Regions from separate parts of the Homo sapiens genome. Here region 1 is linked to region 2. A link means that fine-mapping ties the variant in region 2 to the expression of a gene that starts in the linked region. Tissue or cell type: liver. Region 2 holds a variant in brackets; the other region holds the start of a gene. All regions are shown on one strand. Distances are from middle to middle.

What was found. PIP is the estimated chance that this variant, and not a neighbour inherited with it, causes the effect.
Region 1: it holds the start of AMN, and the variant in region 2 is fine-mapped to the expression of AMN in liver (GTEx, PIP 0.98).

What each region holds. Positions count from the first base shown.
Region 1 is chr14:102,921,278-102,923,896 of GRCh38, forward strand. It overlaps AMN (amnion associated transmembrane protein), which reads left to right and starts at 1,386. Exons shown (of 12, transcript NM_030943.4): 1 at 1,386-1,454; 2 at 2,434-2,552. The coding sequence starts at 1,412. RefSeq lists a silencer at 1,610-1,809.
Region 2 is chr14:102,538,549-102,541,302 of GRCh38, forward strand. It overlaps MIR4309 (microRNA 4309), which reads left to right and starts at 1,096; the gene lies at 1,096-1,178. The variant C/A (reference allele first, on the strand shown) is at 1,522.

The sequences.
Region 1 (2,619 bases), 380 kb after region 2:
TTCACCATCCACCATCCATCCATTCAGCATTCATCACTCACCAAACATCCACCATTTAACACCCACTTTTTTTTTTTTGAGATGGGGTTTCACTCTTGTTGCCCAGGCTGGAGCACAGTGGCGTGATCTCCGATCACCACAACCTCCGCCTTCCAGGTTCAAACGATTCTCCTGCCTTAGCCTCCCAAGTAGCTGGGATTACAGGCATGTGCCACCATGCCTATCTAATTTTGTATTTTTAGTAGAGATGGGGTTTCTCCATGTTGGTCAGGCTGGTCTCGAACTCCCGACCTCAGGTGATCTGCCCGCCTTGGCCTCCCAAAGTGCTGCGGTTACAGGCGTGAGCCACCGTGCCCCGCCAACACCCACTCTTTATGATCTACCTGTCGGCCATGTATCCATTTATGCCATTATCCATCCACCACTCCCTGATTACCATCCATTCCTTTTCCTTTTTTTTTTTTTTTTTTTGAGACGGAGTCTCGCTCTGTCGCTCAGGCTGGAGTGCAGCGCACGATCGTGGCTCACTGCAAGCTCCACCTCCTGGGTTCACGCCGTTCTGCCTCAGCCCCCCAAGTAGCTGGGACTACAGGCGCCTTCTACCATGCCCGGTTAATTTTTTTGTATATTTTTAGTATAGACGGGGTTTCACCGCGTTAGCCAGGATGGTCTTGATCTCCTGACCTCGCGATCCGCCTGCCTCACCCTCCCAAAGTGCTGGGATTACAGGCATGAGCCACCACGCCCGGCCATTCATTCATTTTTCACTCACCATCCTCATCCATCCATTCATCACCCATCCACCCTCTATCACTCACCATCCACCCCGTCAACCATTTACCATTCATCTGCCATGCGTCCATATGCCGTACACCATGCACCATCAATGTTGCTGTCCATCAGCTGTCCCCTACTCACCATCCACTACTCTCCACCATCATCCACAATCCACCCTCCTATACCATCCACATACCATGTTCCATCCAGGATCTTCCTTCTATCATCCAACCACCACCCACAGCCCATGGGACAGGGGCACTGCGTGGAGAAGTGGACACCCAGTTCCAATGGTGAGCAGACTAGCTCAGCCCTAGCAGCACACAGGACAGAGAAAGGGGTGAATTCAAAGGTCGTTTATTCCCCCTCCCGGCAAGACACCCATTTTACAGGGTAGGTCAGTCTCGCCAAGCCCTTCTTCTTTGCCCTTCTTCCTGAGAACCTAAGGTGTTCAGGCCCTGCAGGGGCGGGTAAGGGGAGGCTGAGAAGGTGCCTCCCAGGGGCCTGAAGAGTCGGCCCTGGGCGGGTCTGGAGGTAAATGTGTAACCGACCCTGGTGCCCCCACCCGACCTGCCTGGTCACGTGGGTCCAGTGGGGCAAAGTCTCCTGGTGGGGTGCAAGGAGCCGAGGCGAGATGGGCGTCCTGGGCCGGGTCCTGCTGTGGCTGCAGCTCTGCGGTGAGCCGGGACCACACCGGTGCGGGCCCGGACGGTAGCGGTCTGTCAGGACCCAGGGCCGAGGTCGCTCTAGGCCTGGAGGGTGAAGATCTTCCGAGGAGTGGGCAGGGAGGGCTTTGGAGGGTTGGGGGCGTGAAACTCGGCCCTGCCTCCCTCGTCTGGCGAGTGCGCAGCCCGGAAGTGCGCGGCCAGTGCATCGGGCGGTGCGGGAGAGGAGAGGAGGGGCTCCGGGAACCTCGGCCAGCCCCGGCCTCCGGCGGCTCCTGCCCTCGCGGTTTTTCCGTCTGCGAAATGGGCGCGGTCCCCAGAACCTGCCGAGAGCAGCGAGTGTGCGCCTGCGGGGCTCGGCAGACCGCCTCAGCTTCCCGGTCCCCAAGGGAGCACTGAGCCCTCCTCCGCCTTCACACCAGGCCGGCGCGTGTCCCTGGCGCCCCCTTCCCTAAACCCCTCGCGGCTCCCTCAGGACAACCCCACCCACCACATTCAGGGCCGGCCTGACCTGGTCCTGCCGCCCCCAGCCCCTTCTTACTTCTCATACCGGGTTGCGCTCTGTCGCAGCTCTTCCCGGCCCAGGTAGGACTCCTCCGGGAAGCCTTCCTGATTCCAAGGCCGAGAAGAGGTCTGTGCTGCCCCATCCTCCTCCATGCCCCAGTTGTCACTGTCCTTAACAACGCTGTCCTCTGCTCCAGCGCCAGGCAAACTGGGGGCAGTGCCGGGAGGCTATCTAGGCAGGCGTCCTGCAGGGCGCGTTTGAGCGGGCTCTGCAGGTATCAGTAGAAGTCCGTTGGAGAGCGCCCGGGCAGGGCGCCCACAGTCTGGCCGGGAGGGACCAGGGTCTGGGTCCGGGCCCCCGGGGATGGGGTTCCTATGCGTCCCGGGTGATCCGCGCGGACCTTCCGCACTTCTCTGGGTGGGTGGCCTTCCCTGAGAAGGGAGCATCCCGGAGAGCATCCCGGGCACTCAGTCGCCTCCTCCCCAGCACTGACCCAGGCGGTCTCCAAACTCTGGGTCCCCAACACGGACTTCGACGTCGCAGCCAACTGGAGCCAGAACCGGACCCCGTGCGCCGGCGGCGCCGTTGAGTTCCCGGCGGACAAGGTGCCTGGGAGCGCCGGCGGGGTCGGTGATGGGCCTGGACCCCTGAGACCGTGTGGCCCCGGTGGGG
Region 2 (2,754 bases):
TGTGTTGAGCGTTCTGGACACTGGTGCCCCACCCAGCACCCAGCAGGGGCACTCTGCGCTGTGCTGCCCCTCCCCAGCTGCCTGGGCCACCAGTTCAGGAGAGCTCACCCCTTTGCAACCTTTCCCAACTCAATGCCACGCCAGGAAGTCAGGAGGGGGATGACCCTGCCACACTCTGCCCCCCAGCTCCCTTCCCACCATGCCCCGGGACCAAGACAGGAGGGCCAGCTGGGCCCAGGGCACTTCGCCAGTATCATCGGGTCCTCACCACAGCCCTCAAGGGGGTGTTCCTGTTCCACACACAGAAGACTGAGGCCCAGGGATGGGACTGGGTCGTGTGAAACGCCAGGCCATGCCCGGCCCCGCAGAGTCCTGCGTAGCTGCCCGGCCGGCCCAGGGCTCAGATCCCCTCCTCCAGGCCTGGCCCCAGCTGCTATTGGGGCCCACTGAGGCCTACTGGATCCTAACTGGATGCAATTAGGACATCACCTGATGCCCCTGTCAGGGTGGCTCCTCCCAACCGCTAGAGGACTCAGGCCAAAGGCATTTGGGGTGCAGCCCCCACCCTGGCCCTGGTGGGCCGGAGTCATGCTCTATGTGCCCCCCAGCTGTCCAAGCAGGGGTGTACAGAGACTCTGGGGTGGGGTGAGGGTGAGAGCCTGAGAAGGCTGTTGCGGAGGACACACCGGAAACTGTCACCAGGCCCTGCCCTCAGCCGACCCGGGCCAGGGCCAGGAGGGCCTCCTGGGGGCCGCCATCTTTCTGTTCTGGGAAGGCCAGGCTGGGGGTGAGCTCCATGGGGCTCCTGTGTCCTCATCCATTGGTGGGATGCGGCTCCCTCCCGGGGACCTCTCAGGGCACTGATAAGAGCCACCAGGACTAGGTTCAGCCCACAGCAGGTGGGATGCACCCGCCCCTTGGCGGGCCGGGGGTGGAGACCGGGAGTTTCTGGAGAAGGCCTTTCAGATTCTGAAGGCAGGCACTCCATGCCCCATCCCTGGAGCGCGAGTGACAAGTGTCTTTGTCACAGAAGGACAGAAAGGCCCTACGTGGCCCCTGAGCAGCTCTGGGGAACATTCTTGGTCCGGGTTCCTGTCTGGGGGTTCTGGAGTCTAGGATTCCAGGATCTGGGTTTTGAGGTCTTGGGTTGTAGGGTCTGCGGTTTGAAGCCCCTCTTGTAACCCAGGACAGAGGTGAAAGCAGTGGGGTGGACTGGGCAGCCCCCAAAGTTCAATGGACCTAAAGTGCTGGTGCTCAGCCCTGCCCAGGCAGCTGGCAGGTGGTCCAGAAACCCCTCGTTCTATGGAGACTGAGGCCCAAGTCTTTGGAGGTGGTCAGGGGTCTGTCCCAGAGCACCTTTGGGCGAAAGGTAGGGGGAAGACCACCCAAGACGACCCTCCCCAACACCAGCAAGGGAGCCCAGCATCTCCTCTGAGGCCACTGCCCTGTGGGTCCAGCCTCTCTGGGCTGGGTGTGTGGAGGCCGCTCCTATGGCGGTGTGGGCGGTGCAGCTCATTCCCC[C/A]GGGGCTCCCAGCCTCCCACCCCCATCCGGCCTCCTCCTCCAGAGCCTGGGGACTGGTGGATGCCTGCCAAGAACGCCCACAGCCTGCCAGGATGCGCAGGAAGCACACACACGCCTAATCCCACCCCCATTGTCATAGATCCCTCTTGATTCTGGGCCTGTCTTTCTGGGGGAAACTGAGGCCCAGAGGGATTGAGGGCCCCCAAGGTCCCCGAGTCTCCAGGTGTACCTTGGAGGCTGTGCTTTAGTGGGGCCTCCCCCGGCCTTCTTTGCAGTCCTGAGTGTGTGAAGGGGAGGAATCGGGGGCTGCCAGGCCAGGAGCCAAGGCCGGGGGTGGGGAGCAGCTGGCAGGTGTCCCGGCAGGAGGCCCGGCTAGGGGAGACCAGAACTCCTCTGCTCCTCCCTCCCAACGGCTTCCCACCCCACTCTACAGCAGGCCGCTGGCAGGCCCGGAAGGGCTTGGGAGCCGGAGGGTGCTTGCCGGGGCTCCTGAAGGCCTGAGGAGCTCCTGAGGGACTGGAGGCTTCGGGCCTGGAAGGCTGGAAGGCACTGGCCCTGCAGCTTGGTTCCCGGGGCTCCACGTGTCTGAATGCAAAACAAAGGCGGCTCACAATGAGAAGGCGGGTGCTGGGGATCTGCCCCCGTCGTGCATGTGTCACCACACGGTGTCGAAGCGGACACCTGCCTCCGGGATGAGCGCATTGGGCAACACTGCATGCTTTGCATTGGGAACATGTTTGTGTGTGTGCGTTGGGGGTGTGTGTGCGGTGGGGGGCTATGGGCTGGGATGTCCCTTGAGGTGATCAGCTCTCTACGTTCCGCACACACAAACACACAGTGTGACTGAGACACACATGTGAGTATTGAGATCTCCAGGGCTGACTTCCTGCCGGAAGCATGCCCTGGCCCCCGTCACCTTGTGTGAAATTCCTCCACCTGAGCACCTTCCCGGTAGAGCCACGCGTTGCCTGTGATGGAGGGGCCATGACTAACCCAGGCACTAGGCCTGGAGGCTGGGCTGGCTGCGCTGTACAGTTGCAAGGACCTGCCAGACAGCTCTGTGGACAGAGCCTCCGTCGGGGTTTCACCACGTTGGCCAGGCTGGTCTTGAACTCCTGACCTCAGGTGGTCTGCCTGCCTCGGCCTCCCAAGGTGCTGGGATTATACGCATGAGCCACAGTCTCGCTCTGTCACCCAGGCTGGAGTGTAGTGGCACAATCACAGCTCACTGTA